Regions from separate parts of the Homo sapiens genome. Here all the other regions are linked to region 2. Evidence: fine-mapped expression QTL. A gene starts in region 2. Each other region holds a variant in brackets. All regions are shown on one strand. Distances are from middle to middle.

Region 1 (10,129 bases), 36 kb after region 2:
GCTGCTTGACAGGGACACATTCTTTTGCAGGAATCATTGCAAAGGATCCCACTTCACTAGAAGAAGAGATCAAAGAGATTCGTCGAAGTGGTAGTAGTAAGGCTCTGGACAACACTCCAGAGTTCGAGCTCTCTGACATTTTCTACTTTTGCCGGAAAGGAATGGAGACCATTATGGATGATGAGGTGACAAAGAGATTCTCAGCAGAAGAACTGGAGTCCTGGAACCTGCTGAGCAGAACCAATTATAACTTCCAGTACATCAGCCTTCGGCTCACGGTCCTGTGGGGGTTAGGAGTGCTGATTCGGTACTGCTTTCTGCTGCCGCTCAGGTGAGGCAGGGCCTGCGGGAGTGGGGCTCGCTGCTGCCACCCCACGTGGTGCACAGCCCACCTGCCTGCTCTGCTGTGTATTCCCGTTTTAGAAAGGAGGAGGGAATGACTGTCGTTAGCCAGGCCACGTGACTCTTTGGAGGGATACACTGGTGATTCTCCTTTAGAGGCCCTTGGATTCTCTGCATATCAGACAGAAATAGTTGGATTTCTTAAAGACAGCTTGCTTCTCTAGATGACAGCAAACACAGGGACAGGGAACATTGTGTGCTTTCTGCCACTCCTTCCTGGACATGGCTCATTCTTTCCTGAAGCTTGCCTCTCAGGTACAGGGGCAGTATTGATCTTTCAGCTTCTCTGCACCATGTGCTGCTCTGAGTGTGCCTTGCCAGATGCTAATACCTTCAAGCTCCACCTCCTGTTGCTTCAGAGGGAAGCTGTGCTTCCACCGGGGTTTCCAGCCAAAGGGAAGGGGAGGGCAGCAGGGAGCAGCCCTGTGGCAGAATGGCCAGCTTAGGGTTTTCCAGCCTTCCAGCTGCCTGAGGCCTCAGGAGATGCAGGCAGCTGAGAGCCAGACCCATGGCTCACTGTCAGCTGGAATCAAAAGGATCTCTGGTTCTGATAGGCCTGCTTACATTTCTAGGTGAACTCTGGTCCAGGTCCCAGGTGAGCAGGTCTTGGGGGTGGTTTTTGTGATGCCCCCTTTGATTTTCACACCTTCAGTTCTGTACTTGGTAGAATGATTTGCTGGCTGTGCTCTAACTTTTCTTCTTCTTACAGGATAGCACTGGCTTTCACAGGGATTAGCCTTCTGGTGGTGGGCACAACTGTGGTGGGATACTTGCCAAATGGGAGGTGAGTAGAGTGTGGCAGTCCATGCCTGAAGGACAGTTAGTTCTGGGAATGGTGCTCAGATATCGAAGGCAAGGACACTTCTTTGGACACAACCAAAGCCATGGAATCTTAGATGGATTAAATAACCCAGTGGTGGCCAGGCACGGTGGCTCATGCCTGTAATCCCAGCACTTTGGGAGGCTGAGGTGGGTGGATCACCTGAGGTCAGGAGTTTGAGACCAGCCTGGCCAGCATGGCGAAACCTGTCTCTACTAAAAATACAAAAGTTAGCCAGGCACGGTGGCGGGTGCCTGTAATCCCAGCTACTTGGGAAGCTGAGGCAGGAGAATCCTTGAATCCAGGGGGCAGAGGTTGCAGTGAGCCAACATCACACCACTGCACTCCAGCCTAGGCAACAGAGCGAGACTCCATCTCAAATAATAATAACAACCCAATGGCAACAACGGCATCAGCAGTAAAGTCTTTACTTTTTTTAAATTTTGATCTATGACTGTTCTTTTTGTCCTTCAGCCCTCACATTCTTCCCATTTTGAAGACAAAAGGGAGGAGCCACAGACATGTAGAGTCCGAGACTCAGATGTTAACAGATTTTACAGCTTGTTGTTTAGTTTTGAGCATTTGACTGTGTGGATAAAGTGATGAGACAATACAGTTTTTAAAATGGTTTGAAATGTAGGGAGGTTTTGTCTGTTTGTGTGAAGAATATTTTGCTCCCTTTGGGAAGTTCTGGGGTTTAGAAACCTTTCTTCTGCCTGGGCGGGTGAGGAGGTTGGCCTCTGGCCTTGGACCTGCCTCTGGATGTTGACTGGGGGAACGGAGTTCAGCCCGCCTGTGGTCTGCGGATGCCGGATTCTAGGCTGTGAATTCTCCACCCACTGATTTGGGTGGATGTAAGTGAGTCTCCCTGTCCCCTCTTTCTCTCCTCATGTGTGAACATAAAGGTGCTCATGCATCACAGGACTTTCCTGTAGGTGCTGATGTCTATACAAGCACTTTGCTGTTATAAAGGACTGCTGAGCTGTTGAAGTCAGTAACTCTTTCTGTCTTCCTGTATGTAAAATAAAACCCAGAATCCTTGTCCTGTTATTGCAGGTTTAAGGAGTTCATGAGTAAACATGTTCACTTAATGTGTTACCGGATCTGCGTGCGAGCGCTGACAGCCATCATCACCTACCATGACAGGTGAGAGCGCTTTGTATTGATAGGAAGGGAGATGGCGCTGCAGGAAACACCACCCACCTATACTTAGCCAAATGGGAAGACACTTCTGAGCTTTTAGTTAGAGCAGATGAAGCATGTGAGGTGAGAGGTGTGTTACATGAACTGTTTCACACTAATTTTGGTTGCTTTGCATACATTTTAAACCCAGGGAAAACAGACCAAGAAATGGTGGCATCTGTGTGGCCAATCATACCTCACCGATCGATGTGATCATCTTGGCCAGCGATGGCTATTATGCCATGGTAAGAGCTCTTTCCGGTGCGTTCTTGAGGCAAGACTTCCTGCTTTAGAGTGGTCAGGGCTAGGAGGCTCCTGGACCCTTCACATAAACACATTTATGCGTGGGCCAGGCCCCCACCTTACTGTCACTGTGGGGGCTCTGTGGGACTGTGATAGGAGATACCCTGGGCAGAGTGATTGGTGAGTGTGGCTGGAGAGGATGCCAAGGGCAGTCAGGCAGACCAGCAGGGGCAGAGGGAGTTGCTGGCAAGGACTGTGTCCAGGGCATCTGAGAATCTGCCCAGGGAGGGGCAGTTTTACACAGGGAATTGCGCTACTTTAGTATTTTAGTATTTTGTCTTAGGGGTTTCAGTTATGTTTTTAATTACCTATTTCTAGTATTACTGATTAAAAGGAGAAGTTTAAGATTTGGGGAGTCTTGGTAGTGGTTTCTTGGCAGTGAGCAACCTTCAGCCGGCAAGCGTTAGAAGTGAGAAGTTGGACTGCTTATTTTGTGAGATGTGGTTCTTCCTAGAGTGGGGAGATTCGTGTGAAGATGGCTTCACTACTAATGAGTCCTGTGCCTGCGCTTAGGTGGGTCAAGTGCACGGGGGACTCATGGGTGTGATTCAGAGAGCCATGGTGAAGGCCTGCCCACACGTCTGGTTTGAGCGCTCGGAAGTGAAGGATCGCCACCTGGTGGCTAAGAGGTAATGGACAGAACACTGCTGTTCTGCTTGGCCAGTTAGAATGCTGAAAAGGTTTCAGGGTAGTTATCCCTCCACAGTGCAGTTACGTGCCTTCTATCATAAGCCTATACTGCTTTCATAATAATTTTTTCCTAAAACATGAAATTTTAAAAGTGGCCGGGTGTGGTGGCTCATGCCTGTAATCCCAGCAGTTTGGGAGGCCGAGGTGGGCGGATCACTTGAGGTCAGGAGTTTGAGACTAGCCTGACCAACATGGTGAAAATACAAAATACTAAAAATGCAAAAATTATTGACGGGCATCTGTAATCCCAGCTACTAGGGAGACTGAGGCAGGAGAATAGTTTGAACCAGGGTGACAGAGGTTGCAGTGAGCTGAGATCGCGCCATTGCATTCCAGCCTGGGCGATAGAATGAGACTCTGTCTTAAAAAAAAAAGTATAGAAACCCTAGTATTATTTACCAAGTTAATAATGTTTCTTAACCTTTTTTTAATTCATTGTACCCATCATAATAAACAAAATACGAATTTTTACTGCTATTTGAAACCTCAAAATGAATTCATTTATCACAAATAAAAAGAAACCTAAGGCAGTGGAACAAAGTACTGCCCTGTTTTCAAACTTTAAGAAGGTGAATCTGCTGTAAGTAATGCAAAGAGATTTGCAGCAGACAGAGACATCAAGACAGTTGAGACCAAGCCACACATGGTGGCTCAGGCCTGTAATCCCAGTGCTTTGAGAGCCCGGGAGTTCGAGACCAGCCTGGGCAACATAGGAAGACCCCCATCTCTACAAAAAATTTAAAAATTAGCTGAGCGTGGTGGTACGCTTCTGTAGTCCCAGCTACTTGGGAGGCTGACGTGGGAGGATCGCTTGAGCCAGGGAGGGTGAGACTTCAGTGAGCTATGATTGCACCACCGCATTCCAGCCTGGGCAACACAGGGAGACCCTGTCTCAAAAAATAACACATAAGAAAAGACAGTTGAGATTATCTTCCATAGAGACAGATGAACTCTCCCCTAACTCCCTTTGCTACATCTCAGGGACAGAGCATCGAGCCAGCAGGGCTGGGCCCAGCCTCACAACTGTTACATAGTCTAGTGACACAGGTTTATTGAGGGGGCCATGCCCAGGCCTTGTGGCAGGTGTCTCTTTCAGGTGGCCCCCAGGTTGAGTGGCATCATTGGTGCTCCGATGTTCGCACAGAATTGAACAGTTCTGTGAATTAAATGGTAACCTGATTTTTCTCTATCCATATACATTTTTTCTTGATGAGCATTAGATTATGGGTTTAAAAGGATACAGTTATGCTTGTTAACTTTTTATAATCGAAACTAGTGTCACAAATAAATAGGTTATTTATAAACATATTTTGACGATGTGTATAAGGTTGTCTGACCCTTTATTTTATTTTCTTCTTTGAAAGACTGACTGAACATGTGCAAGATAAAAGCAAGCTGCCTATCCTCATCTTCCCAGAAGGTAAGAAGGGGTTGGTTGCCACGAAGGGCTTCTGTGGGGAGTGCAGGAGTGTGATGCTGATGTTTCCTGGGAACCAAGGCCCTCAGCCCTTGTTGGGGTTATCTGTTTTCACTGAATAATGTTAGGTCCCCTTTAGGTTGGAAGTAGGACTAAAAACTCAGGTAAGTTCAGAATTTGAACTAAGAATGCCATAGTGTGAACTCCCCAAATGCAGGAATTTCTTCTGTAATGTTTCAGCTCCTCACAGAGCTCATGGTGTCCTCCTAAGGCCACTGCGCGTCTCTGCTTTATCTAGGCTGTGTGTATGAATCAGGGAAAGTGGTCCTGTAGAAAGAGAATCGGAGGCACCATCTTGCCTGTCTCTGTTAAGTGTTTGTTTTTAAGTTAGGGAGATGACAGATGTATCTTACTGGAGGAACCATTAGAAGAATTTTGACTATTATACTTAGTCTTTAAGAAACGCCTAATATCTGGGGTAAAGGGCCAACAGAAATAGCATTTTATTGTCTCCTGCATTTTAGGAACCTGCATCAATAATACATCGGTGATGATGTTCAAAAAGGGAAGTTTTGAAATTGGAGCCACAGTTTACCCTGTTGCTATCAAGGTATAAGACCTCCGATGGTACACACTGTCATTACTGGAGCTGCTGTGAGTGGGGTGCAGCAGGAGGAGGTAGAGGAAGGAGCTGGGGTCACCAGTCTGTGGTCGATGCCCTCAGCAGAGTGGCGTGGGGCTGGGTTGACGTGGGTCAAGTGCTGCCGGAGGAGGATGGTGAGTGCTCAGCACCCCTTAGAAGGGCCTGGGGAGTGTGGAATGGGGGACAGCCAGATTCCCGCCTGCATGCTGCTGCCGCCACCATTCGGGAAATGGCAAGCCCTTCACTTATTACCTTGCTTCATAAACCTAGCTGGAATGTAGGCCCCTCCACATGGAAAGCTGGCTGATTGCAGGGCACAGTGGTGTGGTTTTAAGCTGGATTTTTGCATTTTGGGGGAGCCATGAGG[AT/A]TGGGGGGGGGGTCATTACTCCAGCCCAGTGGGAGAAACAGCTTCACTGCTTTTAGTTGTGTCATCTTTTAGACCTACAACAGCTCCTAACAATGAGATGGACCCTGGGAGTTTATCTAGTCTACGTCGACCCTTTAGGAACTGCTCCTCTAACCCTTCAGACACCCAGAGCTATAGGATGTGATTAGCTAGTCATCTGCACATTGTTCCTCCCCGCTCTTACCCTCTTCACATCCACCAGGCCTCACATCATGACACCTACAAAACACAGGCCATCCTCAGTGTGGTTAAAGTATTTAGGCTGCAGCCTGAGAGCTCGATAAAATGGTGAGCAGATATGAGTCAGGCTCACACTTAGAATTTCTTTTGTAGGGGACTGGGTTGTCTGCAGAGCATTCTGTAGAGTTGGTTCTGACTTTCTTTTCACCTTGCCAGTGCCACTGGAGAGGTGTTGCTCCTGGTGAGGCCGATGCTCACCAGCCACTCACTGTTTATCATTTAGGCAGAGGACCAGGCCAGGGATGGCAGATGAATATTGCCTGCAGGGGACTCTGATTGACAGGCTAGGACTCACCAGAGCCTGAGGATGCTGTGTCTGGAAACAGCAGGAAAGAGGAACATAGTCTGTTAGCAGAGTCTGCCTTGGGTGTGGGAGTGGGGACTGGCATCTGCATCCTGCATTCTGGCAAAACGAGGACAGGTGCTTTGCAGTGTGACCGTGATGCTGGATGGAAGCCCTTACTGCTGCCTCCAGAACAGCAGCTCTTGAACTTAGGCTGCATCAGCATTGCCTGCAGGGATTGTTTAAATGCAGATTGCTGGGCCCCACACCCAGGGTTTCTGAACTTCCTATTCTTTTTCTTTTGAGGCAGGGTCTCAGTCTGTCACCCAGGCTGGAGTGCAGTGGCACAATCATGACTCATGCAACCTTGACCTCCCACATTTAGGTGATTCTTGTGTCTCAGCCTCCCAAGTAGCTGGGATTACAGGTGCACACCACCACACCTGGCTAATTTTTTAATTTTTGTAGAGACGGAGTTTCCCCGCGTTGCTCAGACTGATCTAGAACTCCTGGACTCAAGTGATCCGCCTGCCTTGGCCTCTCAAAGTGCTGGGATTATAGGCCTGAGCCACCCCGCTGGGCCTTCTGATTTTCCATTCTAACATGTTCTGGGTGGCATTGATGGTGCCAGTTGGGACCACACTGTGGCGGCCACAGTTCTGAAGCAGTGGCTCTTAGCTGCTGTCAGAACACGAACCCTGAGGAGTTTCCGCTCCTCTCCAAAGTAAAATGCTTATAAATTTTAGATACATTTCCATTTAGTCCACAGAGTAGAGCCCATGTATGGCTAAGAACATCTGGTCTACAGATTACTGGTTTTTGTGAACTCTTTATTGGTAATCAAACTTGGATAACCTTAGCGATTTCAAGGCTCTTCTTATATTTCCACCGGAATCCAGCCATGACCTGATGTGAGGAGTGTGTCGCTGTGTTGAGCTTCTGCCTTTTTTCTCTGTCCACACACACTGCCCAGTGTGGAATAGAGAATCAGCCCGAAACAAAGGGTTCTCACACTCTGGTGACATCAGAATTTCTGTCCATATCAGGCTTTATAAAATACAACGACATGACCAGATGCAGTGGTTCACGCCTGTAATCCCAGCACTTTGGGAGGCTGAGGCCGGTGGATCACTTGAGGCCAGGAGTTCGAGGCAAGCCTGGCCAATATGGTGAAACCCCGTCTCTACTAAAAATACAAAAAAATTAGCCGGGCGTAGTGGCAGGTGCCTACAGCCCCAGCTACTCGGGAGGCTGGGGCAGGAGAATGGCGTGAACCTGGGAGGTGGAGCTTGCAGTGAGCCGAGATAGCGCCACAGCACTCCAGCCTGGGCGACAGTGTGAGACTCTTGTCTCAAAATGTATATTATTATATATAAAATTAAAATTAAAAAAATACTTTCTGATCATACACATTGCTTAGTTTTAAAAACTTATTATTTTCCCTTGTTTCTGTTGGTATTATAATAACACATTAAGTCTTCTGTAGTTAAATCTAATTTTCTTAGCTTCTATAATTAAGCCTAAGTTATCTTCATTTTTGTAGTTAGGGCCACAGTCTTGTCAAAATTGTCCAGTATTTATACTGTGGATCATAAAACTTAGGCTGGAAAGGCCTATAAGATCATAGAGTTCAACCCTAGCCCATCCCACATGCAGGACCCTGCCCTGGGCTCCTTCTCAGGCTTTCCCAGGGAAAGGGCATTTTTGATGTTGTTGGCAGCATGGCCGTGTGGCATAACTCTTGAAATTCTGGCTCCTTTATTTTTCCACTCTGGTCCTGGGTGTTTGCACAAGGTCAGCCTACTGCCTTGTGTACAGGATCCCTTCAGACATTCGCTGGCAGCACCAGGCACTTTGTCCAGGCATTCTCAAGCACCCAGGTCCTCCTGTTGCTCCTTGCGCAACTTCCTCTAGAGCTTACCTACCCTGCTCACCTGCCCCTCCAGCTACTTGTTTGGTGAGAATGTGGGTCACAGCTGCAGCTACATTTTCTGCAAAATGCCAATGAAATAATGAAAGGATCTGATACCTGCTTCATGGTAGATGCAGGCCTGTGTGGTTGAGACCTCCCAAGGCTGTCAGCGTGAGCACAGAGCCGCCTCCTGAACAGACGACTGACTTTGTTGGAAGTGTAAATGTAGAAGCTTTCTAATAGTTTCCTCCCTGGTCTGGGCACCAGAAATCATATTTAAAAGTTGGTGTTTGTGTAAGAAAATATCTTTATTTGGGGGAGGTACACTAGATGAATGACAGGATGCTGAGAGGGGACAGGTGGAGCAAGTGGGAAACGTTGGCGGTGGTTGAATCAGGGAATGGGTACATGGGAGTGCATGATCCTTTTCTCCCTGGTTTTGGAGATGTTTGAAAACTTTATATACCTATGAGTAAGACCTGAAACTAATCAAGGAGGGAAGACATTTGCTTGAGGCAGGCTGTCAGGGGAGCCTTCCTTACTGATCTGTAGCAGAGGCCGGGTTCCTCGGGGGAGATCAGTGTTGCTCACAGTCAGAACCGGCCACATGGAGAGGGGCTTCCACAGTACTCATGCAAGGTCAGGGAGCAGCACCCCAGTACCAGCACGGCCCAGTGGAGTCACTCACAGCAGTCACTGTGGACTCGCAAACGTTGTGAGAACTACTCATGTCTTACCTCCAGCTTTCCATTGTTTTCAGTATGACCCTCAATTTGGCGATGCCTTCTGGAACAGCAGCAAATACGGGATGGTGACGTACCTGCTGCGAATGATGACCAGCTGGGCCATTGTCTGCAGCGTGTGGTACCTGCCTCCCATGACTAGAGAGGTGAGTGCCTGCCCCAGGCAGGTCTGCGCCTGCTCTGTGTAACGTCAAGCCGGGGCTGAGTGGTCTCATTTGTTCTTTCTTACAGGCAGATGAAGATGCTGTCCAGTTTGCGAATAGGGTGAAATCTGCCATTGCCAGGCAGGGAGGACTTGTGGACCTGCTGTGGTAAGTTTAGAGCCAGGCCTTTTCAGCTGAGTTTCTGCAGCAGATGCTGTGTCATTGACTTCACTTACATGTCATTCCCCGTGGTGTGGAGAATTAAACTTGTCAGCTCTAGAGAGAGCAGTTTGACTCTCCCCGAATTCCAACCCAGAAGTGCCCTGTGCTTCCTTGACCTTGGGGAACCTGGATCAGGGATGCCTGGACTGAGGCAGTTGATTCTGTGTACCTTTCTGGGGTTTGAACCAGTCTTCCAGGACACCTGGACAGTGCCCATCTCTGGGTGGGCATGACCTGCTACTGATCTGAAAACTTCAAGAAGGAAGGAGGACTTTCCCAGGTCCCAGTGTATCTGGCAAAATTGAACCATTCTTAGAAAGGTAAAGGTTGTGTTTGGTGTATTCAGCTTGTTACCTAATAGAGCAGGATTGACATACTTTTTCTGTAGTCAGTAAATATTTTAGGATTTGCAGGCCATATGGTGTCTGTTGCAGCTACTGATGATCTCTGCCATTGTAGTGTGAAAACAGACAGTCTATAAACCAATGAGCATGGCTGTGTTCCAATAAAACTTTATTTACAAAAACAGGTATCAGCTGGATGTGGCCCGTGGGCTGCATTTGACCAGCCCTTATACTAGAGTATGAGGTAGTTTTATCCCAAACAGTAGGAGACTGACAGGGGTCAATGCTGGTTCAGAGAAAGTTTTCCACTCTGTGGGGCATTTAGGTTTAAGAGCCAAGGGTCAACTGGGGAGAGCATTTGACTTAGATGGGCATTAT
Region 2 (10,129 bases):
GTGGCGCATGCCTGTAATCCCAGCTATTTGGGAGGCTGAGGCAGGAGAATCTCTTGAACCCAGGAGGCGGAGGTTGCAGTGAGCCAAGATCATGCCATTGCACTCAAGCCTGGGAAACAAGAGCAAAAACTCCGTCTCAAAATAAACATACATACATACAATGGAATATTAGCCCTAAAAAAAAGGGAACTCTGACACATGCTACAACATGGATGAATCTGGAGGACACTGTGCTAAGTGAAATAAGCCAGTCACAAAAAGACAAAATCCGACTATTTATATGAGGCAGACTACTTGAACTCCCATTAGCAGAACGTAGAATGGTAGAATGGTTGTTACTGGGGGTAGAGAGAAGAGAAATGAAATTTTTTTTTAATGGGCATAGAATGTCAATTTTTTTTTTTTTTTTTTTTTTTTAGAGATTGGGTTCCCCCATGTTTCCCAGGCTTGGTCTCAAACTCCTGGGCTCGAGCAATCCACTTGCCTCAGCCTCCCAAATAACTGGAATTACAGGCATTAGATACCATCCCCAGCCTTGATGGAAATTTCTGAAGATTCATAATAATGAAAATATATTTAACACCACTGAACTGTACACTTAGAAATGATTAAGATGGGCCAGGCCCAGTGGGTCATGTCAGTAATCCCAGCACTTTGGGAGGCCAAGGTGGGTAGATCACCTAAGGTCAGGAGTTCAAGAGCAGCCTGGTCAATATGGTGAAAACCCATCTCTACTAAAAATGCAAAAATTATCTGGGCATGATGGCGCGCACCTGTAGTCCCAGCTACCTGGGAGGCTGAGGCAGAAGAATCACTTGAACTGGGAGGCAGTGGTTGCAGTGAGGCGAGATCTCACCACTGCAGTCCAACCTGGGCCACAGAGTGAGACTCCGTCCCCTCTCCCCTCCACCAAAAAAATTAGCCAGATGTGGTGGTGCATGCCTGTAATCCTGGCTACTCGGGAGACTGAGGTGAGAGGATCGCTTGGACCTGGAGGCGGAGGTTGCAGTGAGCTGAGATTGTGCCACTGTACTCCAGCCTGGGCAAGAGAGTGAGACTCCATCTCAAAAAAAAAAAAAAAAGAACTGATTAAGATGGTATAATAAATTTTAGGTTCTACGTATTCTACCACAATTGAAAACATTTTTTAAAAATAATATTTATTTTACTTTCTTTGGCTTTTTATTTTGGTGCTTGGAAATGAGCATTGATGTTGCTGGTTGTGCAGTCGACAGTTAGGGATTCACCTCTTAATGAATGGCAAACTCTTTGTAGATGTTAAAGTTGACTTTGGAAGGAAGATAAGTTGTACGGCACAGGCATGGTACTCTCCTGGGGAAAGGGGTTCTTCCCAGGCTCACAGCACTGTGCACCATGTACAGAGCACACATTTTGGGGAAATGCCCTCATACTATGAATGAATTCAAAGTTAGTATGGGGTAGGATCTAAATCTTGTGATCTCTTTCTTCTAAAGGACTACCCTTCATCAGGTTTTAAAAATTACTCCTATAATTTCTGCAGTATGAGTTTTTTCATTCTAGAATGTGAAAATACTGCCAACAATAATCTAAAGACAGCCCATATTCACAGCGACAAGAAGTTCAGTGTTGGCTATAGCTCGGTCATGCTATGGGCAGGAGGCCTTCTCTAAAGATAAGTCTGCTTTGTGTCAAGCATTTCAAGCATGACTTGCTTGTTTCATCTGCCCATTTACATTCCTTGTACCTAGAAATGAATGTGATAAAAGTTTTGGTGCCTACAGGAACTATATTTACCTAGTTCATGTTGGCTTCCCACTCAGAGGGAAGTTTGATTGCCTTCCTGCACTTGAGAAGTTTAGAGAATGTGCCAGTGAATGTGCACACTCACAAGGTGTGTGTGTGTATCAGTGTTAATACCCAACAATTGAGCCTACTATTTGCTTGGGCAAAGAACACCATTTTCTCTTGAGCCTCTAATATGTGTGAAATATTTTAAGATTTCAATATTATGTACAAAGAACTAGTAGATGGTAAGAATTGTGAGAAAATATAACCATGAGAACACAAAGAGAGTACAGCAGATGAGTGGGCTACTTCCAAGACTGGTTCTGGGGGCAGAAAAGGAGACCAGACGAAGGACTCCAAAGAGCAGTTGAGATCCTGGTGGCCACTTTAAATCCCTATCCCTAGCACTGTGGAGAACACAACACAAAAATGTATGATGTCTGGTTTCTTCTTCTTTTTTTTTTTTTTTTCTGAGATGGAGTCTCCCTCTGTCGCCCAGGCTGGAGTGTAGTGGTGCGATCTCAACTCACTGCAACCTCCGCCTCCTGGGTTCAAGCAAGTCTCCTGCCTCAGCCTCCCGAATAGCTGGGATTACAGGTGCGCACCACCACGCCCGGCTAATTTTTGTATTTTTAGTAGAGACGGAGAGACGGGGTTTCACCATGTTGGTCAGGCTGGTCTCGAATGCCTGACCTCGTGATTCCCCCGCCTCAGCCTCCCAAAGTGCTGGGATTACAGGGGTGAGCCACCGCGCCCGGTGGTTTCTTCTCTTATGGAATTTAATGTCGTTGACGATTAGACGTGGCCATGCATTACTCAATCTTGAATTGGGATCCCCAAAAAAGCTGGGCGAGTAACAAGGGCTCAATGAATGGATAAGTGATTGAGTTAATAAATACGTGATCAGTTCCAAATGGGTAACATTTAGTTATATTTGGTGGAGATAAGTAGTCCAGTGTTTTGGAGCTAAGTGGTTATTCTTTTTTTTTTTTTTTTTTTTGAGTTTGGGTCTCGCTCTGTCACACAGGCTGGAGTATAGTGCCACAATCTCAGTTCACTGCAACATCTGCCTCCTGGGTTCATGCAATTCTCCTGTCTCAGCCTCCCGAGTAGCTGGGATTACAGGTGCGTGCCATCACCCCCGGCTAAATTTTGTATTTTTAGTAGAGACGGGGTTTCACCATGTTGGCCAGGCTGGTCTCAAACTCCTGGCCTTAAGTGATCTGTCCGCCTCTGCCTCCCAAAGTGCTGGGATTACAGGCGTGAGCTACCCGCGCCCCGCTCCCCCCACCATTTTTTTTTAATTTTCAAAATTTTTGTAGAAGTGGGGGTCTCGTTACGTTGCCCCGGCTAGTCTCAAACTCCTGGCCTCAAGCGATCCTCCTGCTTTGGCCTCCCAAAACGCTGGGATTACTGGCGTGAACTACCATACTCTGCCCTTTATTCTTACAGAGATTTTGAGGTCTAAGAATGTGGACTTTAAAGATTTCATTATCAGATTATGCATTTAGCACGGAATGACAATCTGACAGCCGTGTACAGCGTAAACCGGCGGAGAGGGCTTGGCACTAAAGGCAAACTGTCTTTTAAGAACAGGAAAAAGAAAGGTAATATATATTTTAAGGAGGTCCCATTTTAGGGGAGATAATAAGCTTGGGTTAGGCGTCCGAAGTCAGAAGATATAGTAAGAAACACACACGCAAACTCCAGCAGCCACCAGCTAGACTTGAGTAGAGAGAGCAGGTCCAAGTGGAGGTGGAAGTTGGAAAGTTGCATCTGCCAGGCAGGGCGAAAGTGGCCTACACCCACTCCTGGAGCACCCTGCTTGACGAGCAAGGTAGACGAGGCTGAGGGATACTGCTGGTGATGACGGTGGTCGTGGTGATGGTGCTGGTAGCTAACAGATCTTGAGCGTACCAGGCCCTGAGCTGAGTCCTCTAACGGGCAGAATGTCGCTGCATACGGACAGCAGCCTCAAGAGGACAAGGTGATTTAGTGACTCTAGCCTCTTCCCGCGGTGCCAGCCTGATTTCACCCTCTCCGGAACACACAAGCGAACCTCCGGGGAGGGAGCCAGTATCGGGTCCTAACGCAGGGAAGCGCTCCGCTTTCTGAGAGGGACGCGCCAGCGGAGGGACAGCCAGGGCCCGGCCTCTCCTGCTCCTGCCCCGCCCCGCCCCCGGCAGTGCCCCCTAGTCCGCCAGAGGGCGACTCCGCGGGTCGCCCAACCCGCGACCGGTCCACGCGGCACCCGCCTCTCCCTAGGCCCCCGCCCTGCCGGCCCGCGCGCGCCCGACGGGAGCGTGCGGGGCGGTGGGCGCAGGGTCACGTTGGGCGGCGCAGACAAAGGCGGGCGCGCGCACGTCCTGACGCAGCTTGGGCCCGCGGCGGCGGCAAGGGCGGGAGGGAGCGGTCGCCGCGGGATTTGGAGCTGCCTAGCCTCGCGGTCGGTGAGTAGGAGGGAGCTGGCCCCTTACCTCAAAGTCTCCGACCTCCGGGGAGCCGAGAGCGGGACGTGGGAGCCGGGCTTGGGCGGCCGCGCGGGGCCTGCGGTCTGGGACGCCCCGGCGACGCTGCGCCGGCGTCAGGAGGCACCATCGCCGCGCCCCGGGGATCCCCGGCGGGTGGAGCGGGTGCCCCCCGTCCGGGATGGAACGGTCCGCGCCCGCCCCGAACCCCGGCCGCCCGCCTCTCCGCTCGCCTGCTCTCCGAGCCCGGCTCCTCGGAGCCCCTCGCCTCCCCCAAGTCCCAGGTGTGCGCAGCCCTCCCGCCCCGGGAGTCCGGGGATGTGGGTGGCGAGGGCTGCTGGGCGTTGGAGCACCAGGAAGCGCCTTCCCCTGTCATTCCCCTTCCTGTGTTCTCTGGCTGCCGTAAGATGCATGTCTTTACCCTCTCCTTCTCCAAATGCATGCTCCCATTTTTCTTTAGGATTTCTTAACTCCTGAAATCCCTTGCCTTTCCTTTTTTATTTCAGCACCCTCTGAGGCATCCTTCTCCCAGTGGGGCTTGTTTATTTCCTCGCTTTCCATGTCACAGAGGGCTGAAGTTTAGCTGTTCAGAAGTTGCAGAAAATAGCTTATAGGAGACATACGGTGTAGCACGATGGAAATAAGTTCCATCCTCTGCCAAGTATTACCATGGATCTTCTCATGGATAACCTTGAGGTCATTTGAGGAATTTTGTTTTTGGTTCATTTTCCTTAATTTTGGCTGAACTTTGAGGAGCTCTCCTTAGTTTCATGTCTTGTAGATTCTATCTCAATCCAAGGGAAATGGTGTGAAGAGCAGTTATACCATACCAAAGTCTCCAGACAAAATCCTGTAATAATGCCAATCAAATATACTTCTCTCTTTGAAAGAGATGTGCTTTTCTTTTCTTTTTTAACTTTGTATTTTGGAGAATTTCAGACACAGGGAAATAGATGGAATAGGGAACCAGCATGTACTTGTTCTGGCCTCCTCAGCCACTTAACTGTGGCTATTCCTGTGCCATACACACCCCACCCATTTCCCCTCCCGTATGTCTCAGGGAGAACTTGATGCAAGATGAGTCTGTCAAAAGTAGCTTCAGTTCCATAATGAAAACCACCATACCAAGTCATAAGGTGCTTTTTGTTTTGGAACACAGCCTACTCATGAGGTCTTCAGCTAAGAAACACAGTAGAGTTGAAGAAAGAGCACAGCAAAAGGTATCTTAACATGATAGAACAGGTTAAAAGAAAAAGTATGGCCGGGCGTGGTGACTCACGCCGGTAATCCCAGCACTTTGGGAGGCCGAGGCGGGCGGATCACCTAAAGTCAGGAGTTCAAGACCAGCCTGGCCAACATGGTGAAACCCTGCATATACTAAAAATACAAAAATTAGCCGGACGTGGTGGCAAGTACTTGTATTCCCAGCTACTCGGGAGGCTGAGGCCGGAGAATCGCTTGAACCCAGGAGGCAGAGGTTGCAGTGAGCCAAGATTGCGCCGCTGCACTCCAGCCTGGGCGACAGAGCGAGACTCGTGTCAAAAAAAAAAAGAAAAGAAAAAAAGTGTTTCAGATCTGGATGAGAACATTCGGAACGTCCTGTTCAATGTTTTCATTTTTTTCTGAGCCCTTGGAGGTCCAGAGAAGTTCAGTGACTTGTCCAGAGCTGCAGGTCTTAAGAGGCTGAAATCTCGCCTCTGCCTCGAGGCTGCGGTTCCACTGACCCATACTACTTGCCTTCAGGAAAGAGAAATGGTGTAGGAAGGCTGTGGATGAAGACGCTTACATTCATGAAGGATTTGGATAGGCGAACATGAGCTTTTCCACCAAATTTCAGAATTTTAAGAAATGCCTTAAATTATTTCTTAAAAATCAATTTGGGGCAGACGAGAAGTTCTGATAATAGTTTTTAGGGAACATGATAAAATTCTGACCTTAGAAGTGGTATACCAGTTTGAGAAGAAGAACAAGCTATAAACGGTGTAGATAACATTCACGGCTATTTAAGAAAGAGTTACTAAGGGAAACCAGAATGACTTAAGAGTGTTACTCTTCTTTTTCTGAGAGAACAATAGCATCATCTCAGAAAGCCTTTCATGCCATTAATAGGTAAGAATCTGGGCTTCTTGGACCATGGGTTAGACTTTCTTACAAAACCATAATATGCATTTCCTAGCAAAATTTATGCTATTACATTTCCTTATCTCAACAAAGACTGGTAAATTCAGTACTTATTCCTCAATTTTCCTACCCTTAAAATGGGGATATTCTGCCTCTCCAAGGAATGCTGGGAACAAGCAAGTCCTCATGTTAGGGGTCTTTGAGTTTTCATGGAAGTTTAGGTTATTTATATGATGACATAGTTGTCAACTTACTTTCAGGATGGACTTTTCTTTTGTGAGTTTGTGACCTAAATACAATAGTTGTTATGCATGTCCAGTTTATGGAAGTACCACTGCAATAACAGCATTTGAGTGTCATGGTAAATCATTACCCCTAAAGATAGAGGAGGGAGGAGGAGGCAACTGTTGTGTGTCTATTTTGTGTTTGGTGTGAGGAGTGTTGTGGCTAGGCTCTTCAGAGGCTAGCCTAACTTGCTAAGTGGTTTCTGCTAAAGAAAAACCCACTTTTCTTGTGTGTGCTTGTCACCACAAGTTAGCTTTTATTAAAAACAAAACAAAACTCTCTAAGCTATCTGGAGATGATTTGGCCCTGGTTAAACATGAACTGTACTGCAGAATTGTTTGTTTGGGTAAAGTAGAACCTCATTATGACGTGTCTTTTACTTCCTACTGTGTCATTGTGCTCATGGAGAGAACTTGACGGAATATCATCCGTTCCATGTATCACTAAACCATGTAATAGCGTACACTATGATTAAGGCTTTTTAAGAGAATAGAATTTTAGAGTTAGAAGGAGTCTTCCAAGTGCTTAGAGTTTCCCCTGAGTCCTTTAATGTACTTTTTCACCTTTAAAACACATGCAGACACGTACACATGCCACACAAACACAGAGTCTCATCTAGGGCTCTCTTCATTTTGCCTTGTACAATCTTAGTATGTTTGGATCCCACCTCCAGTTAATTTGTAAACCGAAGATCTGCAATAATAGAAAAATGCTTTGTAAAACAGGAGCGTAATACATTTGCACTTGACTTTTATTTATTTATTTTATAGAGATGGTCTTGATCTGTGGCTCAGGCTGGAGTGCAGTGGCATGATCAAGGCTCACTGCACCCTCAGCCTCCCTGGCTCAAACGGTCCTCCCGCCTCAGCCTCCCAAAGGGTCGGAATTACAGACATGAGCCACCATGCCAGGCCTTTGTTGACTTTTTTTTTTTTTTTTTTTTTGAGACAGAGTCTTGCTCTGTCGCCCAGGCTGGAGTGCAGTGGCGCAATCTCGGCTCACTGCAAGCTCCGCCTCCCGGGTTCACACCATTCTCCTGCCTTAGCCTCCTCAGTAGCTGGGATTACAGGCGCCTGCCACCACGCCCGGCTAATTTTTTTTTTGTATTTTTTAGTAGAGACAGGGTTTCACCGTGTTAGCCAGGATGGTCTCGATCTCCTGACCTCGTGATCCCCCCGCCTCGGCCTCCCAAAGTGCTGGGATTACAGGCGTGAGCCATCGCACCCGGCCGACTTGTTTGAATTAAAAAAAAAAAATGATCAGGAAGCTTAAATCAAGGGAAGTTCAATGATTTTTTTTTTTTTTTTTTTTTTTTTTTTTTTTGGAGACTGAGTCTTCCTCTGTCGCCCAGGCCTGAGTGCGGTGGCGAGATCTCGGCTCTCTGCAACCCTCCACCTCCTGAGCTCAAATGATTTCCCTATCTCCCAAGTAGCTGGGATTACAGGCATGCGCCACCACGCCCAGTTAATTTTTGTATTTTTAGTAGAGATGGGATTTCACCATGTTGGCCAGGCTGGTCTCGAACTCCTGACCTCAGGTGATCCACCCACCTCAGCCTCCCAAAGTGCTGGGATTACAGGCGTGAGACACTGCACGTGGCCGAAGCTGAATGATGTATTCAGGGACACATAGACTAGACAGTAAGAGTTGCACCTAGAACCTAAAGGCAGTCCTGGTTCCAGATCTAAGCCCTTTCTGCTGTACCATTTTCTTCACCTTGGAGAAATAGGGTGGGAAAGTATACACACACACACACACACACACACACACACACATCTTTCTTTCTTTCTTTGCCAGTTGAAGATACATTATTTTGAGTCTCCTTTAAAAATTTTTGATCAGTGCTGTCCCATAGAAATATTATATATGCTATATACACAATTTTAAATTTTATAATAATGCTTTTTTAAAAAGCACAAAGAAATAGATAAGGTTGATTTAATCATTCCACAAGGGGAGGGAGAGAGAGAGAGTGTGTGTGTGTGTGTGTGTGGGTGTATCTCAAAACATCACATTGTGCTCCATACATATGTAAAATTATGTATCAATTTTTAAGAAATTGACAAACAGTAATTTTACGTATTTATAGTGTACAGTAATATTTGCCCACATGGATAGAATGTGTAATGATAAAATCAGAGTATTTAGGATATCCAGCACCTGAAACATACATCATTTCTTTGTGTTGGGAACATTTCAAATCTACTTAACATTTCAAATTAAAATATACAAGAAATTGGCCTGACGTGGTGGCTCATGCCTGTAACCCTAGCACTTTGGGAGGCCAAAGTGGGTAGATCACTTGAGGTCAGGAGTTTGAAATCAGCCTGGCCAACATGATGAAACCCCTTCTCCACTAAAAATACAAAAAAAACTAGCCGGCTGTGGTGGCCTGTGCCTGTAATCCCAGGTATGAGGGAGGCTGAGGCACGAGAATTGCTTGAACCTGGAGGCAAAGGATGCAGTGAGCAGAGATCGCACCACTGCACTCCAGCCTGGGCCACAAAATGAGACTGTCTCAAAAAAAAAATAATATATATATATGTACAAGAAATTGGTAACTATAGTCATCCTACTTTGCTATTGAATACTGGAACTCATTCGTTCCATTTAAGTTTTTTTTTTCTATCCATTAACCAAGCTCTCAACGTCCACCCTTCCCAGCTGCTGGTATCTATTATATTCTACTGTCTATGAGATCATTTTTAGCTCCTATATATTGACTTTGATTTGAAAGTCAATTTAAATTTTTTTAAAAAAATTGTATAAAGTAGAAACAGGTGAAAATAATTTTAACAATATATTTTATTTAACCTAGTTTATCCAGAATATTACTTTGAAACATAATCAATATAAAAATTATTAATGGGATATTTTACATGCATTTTTTTCATGCTAAGTCATTGAACTCCAGTGTGCATTTTACATTCACAACACATTTTAAGTGCTCCAAGGTCACACGTGGTTAGTGGCTGCTCTGTTGGACTGCAGAGAATCACTGTCAGTGGAACATAAAGATGAAGGAATGTTTTATTTTGCTTAGTAATGTTCAGGTCTGAGGTTAGAGTTTGTGGTTGTGGTCATTGGTTTTTTCTTTCATGTTTTAGTGATTTTCTTTGCACAATTAGAAGTATTTTGAATTTGCAGAGAGATGAACAAAAAAGTCTGCTGTCACGAATTTGTGCGCTTGTGATGAAAAGGTTTCATTTTTTAAGACAGGGTCTTGCTCTGTTGCTCAGGCTGGAGTGCAGTGGCACTGTCATGGCTCACTGCAGCCTCAGCCGACTGGACTCAGGTGATCCTCCCACCTAAGCCTCCCAAATAGCTGGGATTACAGGAATGCACCACCACGCCCAGCTAATTTGTGTATTTTTAGTAGAAATGGGGTCTCTCCTTGTTGTCCAGGCTGTTGTTGAACTCCTGTCCTCAAGTGATCCGCCCACCTCGGCCTCCCAGAATGCTGAAATTACAGGTGTGAGCCACTGCGC
Region 3 (10,129 bases), 59 kb before region 2:
GATTTATAAACTATCTTTGAAGAAATATTTCGTTTCACCTACAAAGAGTTCTTTAAAAAAAAAAAGCAGGAGACCTAAAAATCCACCTATTAGCTGCCATATCTGTTGTTCTTGATCTTTCTGTTTCTGTTCATGTATATATCCTCTTACCTCATGTTTTAACAGACCTGTTTATTGCCAGGAAATGATAATAACTTGTATTCAAAATGTTTTGTTAATTACTCTTCACGGAGCAGCCGAGTGTCAAACAACATAGCTAGCTCAGATTCTGGGATGTGCAAGGGCTGAGAAACATAGATGTGATCTTTTCCTCCCAACAAAAGGATTCATGTGCACAACTTGCACATCTTTGTTTATCTCATAAAATCTACAAATGTTTTACTTAGTCCAGTTTCTACTTTCTTAGATATTTGAAGAATTATGCGCTTGAAAATCAACATCTGTGATTCTCGTTTCTAATTTTAAAATGAAGAGTGCTTCAGTTAACAATTAGGGGCCAGGCCAGGTACGGTGGCTCACACCTGTAATCCCAACACTTTGCGAGGCCGAAGTGGGTGGATCATTTGAGGTCAGTAGTTCGAGGCCAGCCTGGCCAACATAGTGAAACCCCATCTCTACTGAAAATACAAAAATTAGCTGGGTGTGTTGGCAAGCACCTGTAATCCCAGCTACCCGGGAGGCTGAGGCAGGAGAATCACTTGAACCCGGGAGGCGGAGGCTGCAGTGAGCCAAGATCACGCCACTGCACTCCAGCCTAGGCAACAGAGCAAGACTCCATCTCAAAACAAAAACAAAAACAAAAAAAAAGTAGGGGCTGGGCTCACACCTATCATCCCAGCACTTTGAGGGGCCAAGGTGGGCAGATTACTTGAGCCCAGAAGTTGAGACCAGCCTGGGCAACAGCAAAACCTTGTCTCTACAAAAAAACACAAAAATTAGTTGGGCATGGTGGCCCACGCCTGTGGTCCCAGCTACTTGCAGGGCTGAGGTGGGAGGATCACTTAAGCCTGAGAGGTCGAGGCTGCAGTGAGCTGAGATCATGCCACTGCACTCCAGCCTGGGTGACAGAATGAGATCCTGTCTCAAAAACAACAACAACAACAACACACACACACACAATTAGGAAAGGCCAAACAGCATGTTTTGGGGGATTTTTAATATTGCAGAAAAGATCTTCCCTTAATATTTAATGACATGGAGGGACTATTTCAGGATAGGAAAAATCACCTTTTAAGTAACCAGAAACCCCACAGCAGCCATCTTGAATACAGAAACTTCACCAGCCCCTGCCAGCAAGAGCTATAAATGTAAAATTATCAGATCCCTGATAGGGGCTCCCTGAGGAAATTTGCTTGTGACAAGTTGTTTTCTATTCCCTAGGAATAGAAAGGGAATAGTTGTTTTCTATTCCCAAGTACTGTGTAGATTTTGAAGTGACCACAAGTTTTCCATAAAGGAAATGTGTGCTGCCAGAGTAATACACAGCTGTATATTAACTCCATGCAGCAGTTAAGACAGCAAGTAAAAATGCCTCTGAGACCAAAGCCAGCATTTAGGCTCAGAGGGTAAAATTCAATCTGATCATTTCGTTTAACAGATAAGCTTGGCCGGGCACGGTGGCTCATGCCTGTAATCCCAGCACTTTGGGAGGCCGAGGCGGGTGGATCACAAGGTCAGGAGTTTGAGACCAGACTGGCCAACATGGTGAAACCCCGTCTCTACTAAAAATACAAACAAAAAATTAGCTGGGCGTGGTGGCGGGCGCCTGTAATCCCAGCTACTCAAGAGGCGGAGGCAGGAGAATTGCTTGAACCCGGGAAGGCGGAGGTTGCAGTGAGCCGAGATCATGCCACTGCACTCCAGCCTGGGCGACAGAGTGAGACTCCATCTCTAAAAAAAATATATTTTCCTGGCAACCAAGGTCCCAACAAGGTTTTCAATGGAACTTGACATGCTGGTTTTAGAAAAGTGAAGAGACATGCCCTGTATCTAGCAAGACATGAAGTTGTAGTAGCTGAAATGTGTCTCATTGGTACAAGAATAGCTCACGGATGATGGAACAGAAGAGAGACCTGCACACAGACCTCAGAATGCATGGTGTCCTGGATCGTCCCCTTTTGTCTCTCATACCTTTTTTCCTTCGCTGTGCTCCTTATGTTCTAAGAAGACGAATCTGAGCAGGCTGCAACAACCTGGCTCCCTTGCCCTGTCGTTTCTGGTAGGGTTCAGGCAAGGGAGGGATCAGCAGGGGACCTGAGCGTGGAACACTGCATCACAGAAGTGGCTAACTATTTAGACAGCTGCTTAGGGATCTGGAAGATACAACTGGAGGCTGATGAGGAAGAGGAGAGAAACCCTATGTGGATGCACCCTAGGAGTGGGCATAGAAGGTGAAGAAATTCATATGTTGTGTATGCCCACCACATAGCATCCCTGCAGGGAGGTTCTCATTGCAGGAAAGGAAGTGGAAAGTCCTCTGATATCAGTCAGCCTCTTTCCCAGCCTTCCTGGTGCTGGCTCAGTGGGACCATGTGAAAAGGTGGACACAGCAAGGATGAAGCATGCAAGGGGCTCCACAACATGGGCCTCCTTCCGTCATGGCTGACCTGGCCACTGCTACTGCTGGCAGCCCAACTGGCCGATGGAGACTCATGCTAAGCCCACAGTGTGGCACCGTTTCCCAGGAGGGAGGGAGGGAGTTTTGATTATATATTTTAATTACTGAATGGTACTTAAGGAGATCATGGAACTCTTTTTTTTTTTAAGCAGAGTGACAAGAGTAATCAGTTTTTGTCCAGTGACAGGGGAAGAACTATCCCCAACAAATAAATGTAGAGAAAAAATAAACTTGTTTTATAAGCACATTTCCTGAGTTATGCTAATTGATGCCATGACTACACACACACACAGCTCATATTACCATATTATTTTGGGGTACACAGTTGGTCAAATTTAAAAACATTTCTGGGAACAGGCCAGGCACAGTGGCTCACATCTGGAATCCCAGCACCTTGGGAGGCCGAGGTAGGAGGATCGGTGAGGCCAGGAGTTTGAGACCAACCTGGGCAACATAGTGAGACAAAAAACAAATTAGCAGCCGGGCGCAGTGGCTCATGCCTGTAATCCCAGCACTTTGGGAGGCCAAGGCAGGCAGATCACTTGAGGTCAGGAGTTCGAGACCAGCCTGGCCAACATGGCGAAACCCCGTCTCCACTAAAAATACAAAAATTAGCTGGGCGTGGTGGCGGGCGCCTGTAGTCCCAGCTACTTGGGAGGCTGAGGCAGGAGAATTGTTTGAACCCGGGAGGTGGAGCTTGCAGTGAGCTGAGATCCCACCATTGCACTCCAGCCTGGGCGACAGGGCAAGCCTCTGTCTCTAAAAACCCCCCAAAATACAAAAAAACAAATTAGCCTGTAGTCCCAGCTACTCAGGACAGTGAAGCGGGAGGATCACTTAAGCCCAGGAGGTCGAGGCTACAGTGGGCTGTGGTTGCACTCTGGCCTGGTGACAGAACGAGACCCTGTCTCTATTAAAAACAAAACAAAACAAAACAAAAAACTATTCATAGGAACAATAAGCACCAAGTTGAAGATACTGGTTACATCTAGAGAGTAAGGAACAGGAATGAGGTCAGAAACAGGAGCACAACAGACTTAGATTGAGTTTGTCGTGTTATATGGCTTCTTATCATTCATACGTTTTCAAATGCCTAAAAAGAACCAACAACTTGTACTTGTCAATATGGATTACCATATCCTAAATATCAGGCACACCAGTTAACATCTTCAGTATTATGAATGGTTTTGATAATTTGGATGCAATAACCACCACCCCATGGGATCCCTTCAATTTCCTCAAAGCCTCCGGGCCTGTTCAGCTGATTGGTTCCATTGGTCATCAACAGAGACTAGCCTCTGAGCTCTGCCAGTTCTAATTATAACCCCCCCAAAAAGGTGGAAAATATGAAAAAAGTGGCTTTTTCATGCTTACAAGTATACGAGTAGAACTCTAAAATACATGAATTAAACTTCCAGCCTAGAAGCAGGTTATAGCCAAGGGTAAAGTTCAGGGTCAAGCTGAATTTTCACTGGAAGTAAACATGTCTAATACAAAGCAGAGAGGATGACTAGGAAAGCATGATCTTGCTTCACAGAGAAAAGTCAAAGGTAACAGCAGCCCTTACAACTCCATGGGTCACATCCAAATCTTATTGATTCCAATGAGTTAGCAACTCATAGCATCACAGCTGTTCACAGCAAGACCAGCAATAATAGACCAAATGACCCAAGGCTTCTGGTTCTTATTTCAAAAAATATCAACAATTAACACAATTGCATGACCAGACTTCAGTATTTTCAGTTGAAAGTATTTTCATAACTGAACTGAAATAAACTGAAAAATCTAATAATTTCTATCACTTTGGGGTACTCTAAAGGTGGAATTATTTCACTATCTGTTCTGAGCTAAGTCAGTAGTAAAATACTCAGATAATGGTATGTGGCATGGAACATAATCATCCTGTTCTCTAGCCTTCTGATAAATAGAGGGTGAATGTCGAACTCAGCTAAGATATTAACTTTTACCAGTGAGAAACCTGGAAGTGTTTCAGTAAAGAAACCT[G/A]TCGTAACCCAGAAGGTTTTAAGATGTCACAAATTTAAAATTTCACAATTTTCTCCTGTTAGGCCTCTTTTTTTTTTTGTTTGAGACAGTCTTGCTTTGTTGCCCATACTGGAGTGCAATGGTGCCATCTCGGCTCACTGCAATCTCCACCTCCCAGGTTCAAGCAATTCTCCTGACTCAGCCTCCCGAGTAGCTGGGACTTCAGGTGCCCGCTACCGCAACCAGCTAATTTTTGTATTTTCAGTAGAGATAGGGTTTCACCATGTTGGCCAGGCTGGTCTCAAACTCCTGACTTCAGGTGATCTGCCTGCCTCAGCCTCCCAAAGTGCTGGGATTACAGGCGTGAGCCACTGCACCCAGCCTAGGCCTCTTACTCCTTATGATTTCAAGTACTGACATCTTAAGAGATGTATAATTCATAGACACTACATGTAGAGGGAAAATAATGACAACAATGGTAATTATAATTCCATCTTTGTAATTCTAATTAAAAAGCTTGGAACTTAGGAATAATTTTATTTATTTAATTTTTTTTTTTTTTTTGAGACAAGATTCTCACTCTGTCACCCAGGCTGGAGTGCAATGGTGCGATCTCAGCTCGCTGCAACCTCCACCTCCCAAGTTCAAGCAATTTTCATGCCTCAGCCTCCCGAGTAGCTGGGACTACAGGCGTGCACCACCACGTTCAGCTAATTTTTGTATTTTTAGTAGAGATAGGGTTTCACCATGTTGGCCAGGCTGGTCTCAAACTCCTGGCCTCGATTGATCTGCTCGCCTAGGCTTCCCAAAGTACTGGGATTACAGGCATCAACTACCATGCCTGGCCAGAATTTAGGAATAATTTTAAATGAATCTTACTGTATTTTATCAGCTCAAGAAAACCATGACTTATATATAGTTGAGTCTTGAACAACTCAGATGTTAGAGGCACTGAACTCCTGCACAGTCAAAAATCTGCATTTTTTTTTAAGAGACAGGGTCTCGCTCTGTTGCCCAAGCTGGAGTGCAGTGGCACAATCATAGCTCACTGTAGCCTTGAACTTCTGGGCTCAAGCAATCTTTTCGTTTTTGTAGAGACAGGGTCTTACTATGTTGCACAGGCTAGTCTCGAACTCCTGGTTTCAAGCAATCCTCCTACGTTGGCCTCCCAAAGCACCAGGATTACAGGTGTGAGCCACCATGCCCAGCTTCGTACAACTTTTGTTTTTTTCTTTTTCTTGAGGTGGAGTCTCCCCCTGTATCCCAGGTTAAAGTGCAGTGGCACGACTCATTGCGACCTCTGCCTCCCGGGTTCAAGCGATCCTCCCACCTCAGCCTCCTGAGTAGCTGGGATTACAAGTACGTGCCACCACACCCAGCTAATTTTTGTATTTTTAGTAGTGACAGGGTTTCACCATGTTGGCCAGGCTGGTCTGAAACTCCTGACCTCAAGTGATCCGCCTGCCTCAGCCTCCCAAAGTGCTGGAATTACAGGTGTGGGCCACTGCACCCAGCCACGTACAAATTTTGACTCCCCAAAAACTTAACTACTAATAGCCTACTGTTGACTGGAACCCTTACCCATAGCATAAACAGTCAATTAACACATTTTAACGTTATATGTGTTACATACTGTATTCTTACAATAAAGTAAGCTAGAGAAATGAGTATGTTACTAAGAATCTAAGGTAGAGAAAATATATTTACTATTCATGAAGTGGAAGTGGAGCATCATAAAGGTCTTCATAAGAAGGAATGAGGGGGCCGAGCGCGGTGGCTCACGCTTGTAATCCCAGCAATTTGCAGGGCCTGGGCGGGAGGATTGCTTGAGACCAGGAGTCTGAGACCAACGTGGGCAACCTAGGGAGACCTCATCTGTACAAAAACTAATAAAAAATAAATAAAAATTGTAAAAAGAAGGAAGGAGGGGTTGGTCTTGCTGTCTCATGGGTGGCAGAGGCAGATGAGGTGGAGGAGGTGGAAAAGGAGGCAAGCACACTGGTGTAACTTACTTGAAAAAAAACCCAACATAAGTGAATCCCAGCGGTTCAAATCCAAGTTGTTCAAGGGTCAACATATATAGATGAATGAATTTTATTCTAAGAGTTCTCCCACAGAAAACAATTATTTCAATAACTGTTAGCCTAAATTTCACAAAACGGGCCGGGTACAGTGGTTCATGCCTGTAATCCCAGCACTTTTGGAGGCTGAGGGGAGCAGATCACTTGGTGTCAGGAGTTCAAGACCAACCTGGCCAACATGGCAAAACTCTGTCTCTACTAAAAATACAAAAATTACCCAGGCATGGTGGCACACACCTGTAATCCCAGCTATAGGGGAGGCTGAGACACAAGAATCGCTTGAACCCAAGAGGTGGAGGCTGCAGTGAGCCAAGATCACACCACTGCCCTCCAGCCTGAGTGACAGAGCAAGACCTTATCTCGAAAAATAAAATAAATTAATTTAAAAAGTTATCAAAATGGTGCCCATGTCTATGATTCATTAACACAAAGAAAAGAAAGACATTAAAATTCAAGACAATAAATGAAATTTTGATACGGGGCACATTCTTGAACAAGGCTACCTTTTACCCTTTACTTTGACTATAATCAGACCTTTTCCCATCACTATAGGAAAAGAGAGAGAGAGAGAGCACGCATTGCCCTAAGGTGCAAGCATTTAGAAATACTGAGTTTGGGCCGGGTGCAGAGGTTCATGTCTGTAACCCCAAACACTTTAGGAGGCTGAGGCAGGAGGATCGCTTGAGGCCAGGACTTCAAGACCAGCCTGGGCAACATAGTGAGACCCCCGTCTCCACAAAAAAAAAAAAAAAAATTAGCCAGGCACGGTGGTACACACCTGTGGTCCCAGCTACTTGGGAGGCCAAGGTGGGAGGATTGCTTGAGCCCAGGAGTTTGAGGCTGCAGTGAGCCATGACTGTCCCACTGCACTCCAGCCAGAGAGAAAGAGAGATTGAATTTGGCCTGGCTTTTATTTAGACCTTAGGACAAGTCCCTCAAGATCTCTCAGCTAAACTATATAGACTTTAATAAATATGAAGCCTTAGGCTGGGCACAGTGGCTCATGCCTGTAATCCCAGCACTTTAGGAGGCTGAGGCAGGTGGATCACAAGGTCAGGAGTTCAAGTCCAGCCTGACCAAGAAACCCCGTCTCTACTAAAAATATACAAGTTAGCGGGGCGCAGTGGCAGGCACCTGTAATCCCAGCTACTCAGGAGGCTGAGGCAGGAGAATCACTTGAACCCGGGCGACAGAGGTTGCAGTGAGCCGAGATCATGCCACTGCAGTCCAACATGGGCAACAGAGTGAGGCTCCATCACAAATAAATAAATAAATAAATAAGACTTGCCCAACACTTGGGCACATAAGCTTCTCATCAAAGATGCCCATGATATAAAGGCACATGAATTTCTTTATGGAAAGGTCACCTTTCTCTTTGCTTGACATATTCAGAAAAGCATTAGGAAAATAATCTTACTCAACCAGCTACATGCTATGTTGGCCACAGTGTTTCATAAGATATATTTAATTTTTAAAAATTTTTTATGATTATTGTATATTCTACAACAAGCAAAGGGGCAGATAGTTCTTATATCTCCTTACAGAGTTTCAGAGGACCTAGGGTCTGAGGAGAGCAAAGGAATTAGGAATATCATAAATTGCCCAGATTTTCCATTTGTAAGGGAGACCCAAGCCTTGCCCGGCTTCCTGAGTTCTCCAGCATCCTGGCCATGCAGCTGGCATTGGGTGTTATCATTGGCCAGAAAAATACGTATAAGTTCACCAGCCAATAGCTTTCCTTATGAGCCTAAGAGAAAACAGCGTAAGCACACTTTTCTGCCTTCCTTAAAGCTCTTTGGGAGCCCAAGGCGGGTGGATCATCATGTCAGGAGATCGAGACCATCCTGGCCAACATGGTGAAACCCTGTCTCTACTAAAAATACAAAAATTAGCCAGGCATGGTGGCACACCCCTGTAGCCCCAGCTACTCGGGAGGCTGAGGCACGAGAATCGCTTGAACCCAGGAGGCGGAGATTGCAGTGAGCCGAGATCATGCCACTGCACTCCAGCCTGGCAACAGAGCAAGACTCCGTCTCAAAAAAAAAAAAAAATGCAAGCTGTCCTCTTACATGGCTGTCTGTAGTGCCAATCTTCATGCATTCAGAAAAACCGGGAGTTAAACTCAACTTAACTAAAACACTCCCAAATCTTAATTCTTTGGTTTCCAGGGCAGTGAGACCAAGATTGTGATGGAATTCAGAAAAAGGGACCCCTGAGAAACAGCTGCTGACCAAACAAGCAAGGGCACTGATATGAGAACAATAATAATGCCATTACTTGTATTCTGAAAGCATCTTTCTCCAGAAAGCTCACAATTCTGTATAGATATACAGTATTTACTGTTGTTTTTCCTTGGTGATTAAAACATTAAATTTGTTCTCATTAATAATGTATCTTTTTGGCCAGGTGCAATGCCTATAATCCTAGCACTTTGGAAGACTGAGGTGGGCGGATCACCTGAGGTCAGGAGTTCAAGACCAGCCTGTCCAACATGGGGAAACCCCATCTCTACTAAAAACACAAAAATTAGCCGGGCATGGAGGCACATGCCTGTAATCTCAGCTACTCTGGAGGCCAAGGCAAGAGAATCGCTTGAACCTGGGAGGCAGAGGTTGCAGTGAACCAAGATCATGCCACTGCACTCCAGCCTGGGCAACAGAGCGAGACTCTGTCTCAAAAAATAAAAATAATGTACCACTGGGCCAGGTGCAGTGGCTCACGCCTGTAATCCCAGCACTTTGGGAGGCCGAGGCGAGCGGATCACAAGGTCAGGAGATCCAGACCATCCTGGCTAACATGGTGAAACCCCGTCTCTACTAAAAATACAAAAAATTATCGGGCGTGGTGGCAGGCGCCTGTAGTCCCAGCTACTCGGGAGGCTGAGGCAGGAGAATGACGTAAACCCAGGAGGCGGAGCTGGCAGTGAACCGAGATCACGCCACTGTACTCTAGCCTGGGCGACAGAGTGAGACTCTGTCTCAAAAAATAGTAATAATAATAATAACGTATGGCTGTCCACAAATATTTTGGCTGTTTCTATTTGCTGTGTCTATAATTTCCATTAACATCTTCACTGAGAATATCTGAATATTGCTGTGGCTTGTCACTTTCTTCAGTTGTATAGGATCCTATTTTCTGTATCTTCCTCTTCCACTTTGGGCAGTAGCTTTTTCCTTCTCTTTCGAGGTAACTTCATGTTTTACTTGTCTGAATTCATGTTAGTATGTTCATCTTGCAATTTAAATCATCTAAGCTTGCCTGCAAATTCTATCCACAAACTTCATCCTCCTAATATAATAATCTATGTAATCACCTTTTATCTGTGATCATTTTAATGAATTGCATTCCATTTATATGGCTATCTTATTATTTCTAAAACACTTCTTGACAGTGGGTGCACATCAACCAGGTGTTCCTGATTTTTCTCTTCATTCTATATAATGTAATT

Evidence for each region. PIP is the estimated chance that this variant, and not a neighbour inherited with it, causes the effect.
Region 1: its variant is fine-mapped to the expression of GPAT4 in whole blood (INTERVAL, PIP above 0.99).
Region 3: its variant is fine-mapped to the expression of GPAT4 in whole blood (TOPMed, PIP above 0.99).

The regions. Positions count from the first base shown.
Region 1 is chr8:41,609,625-41,619,753 of GRCh38, forward strand. It overlaps GPAT4 (glycerol-3-phosphate acyltransferase 4), which reads left to right. Exons shown (of 13, transcript NM_178819.4): 4 at 31-331; 5 at 1,112-1,186; 6 at 2,279-2,368; 7 at 2,556-2,649; 8 at 3,221-3,336; 9 at 4,762-4,817; 10 at 5,339-5,424; 11 at 9,060-9,188; 12 at 9,274-9,353. Among named protein-coding and RNA genes, the nearest start is that of NKX6-3, 36 kb to the right of the region's middle. RefSeq lists an enhancer at 1-164. The variant AT/A (reference allele first, on the strand shown) is at 5,825.
Region 2 is chr8:41,574,062-41,584,190 of GRCh38, forward strand. GPAT4 (glycerol-3-phosphate acyltransferase 4) reads left to right here and starts at 4,139. Exons shown (of 13, transcript NM_178819.4): 1 at 4,139-4,217. It overlaps GPAT4-AS1 (GPAT4 and GINS4 antisense RNA 1), which reads right to left and starts at 4,307. Exons shown (of 3, transcript NR_125824.1): 1 at 4,245-4,307. RefSeq lists silencers at 3,866-4,485, 4,506-4,645.
Region 3 is chr8:41,515,259-41,525,387 of GRCh38, forward strand. No RefSeq gene overlaps it. Among named protein-coding and RNA genes, the nearest start is that of GINS4, 8.9 kb to the right of the region's middle. The variant G/A (reference allele first, on the strand shown) is at 4,622.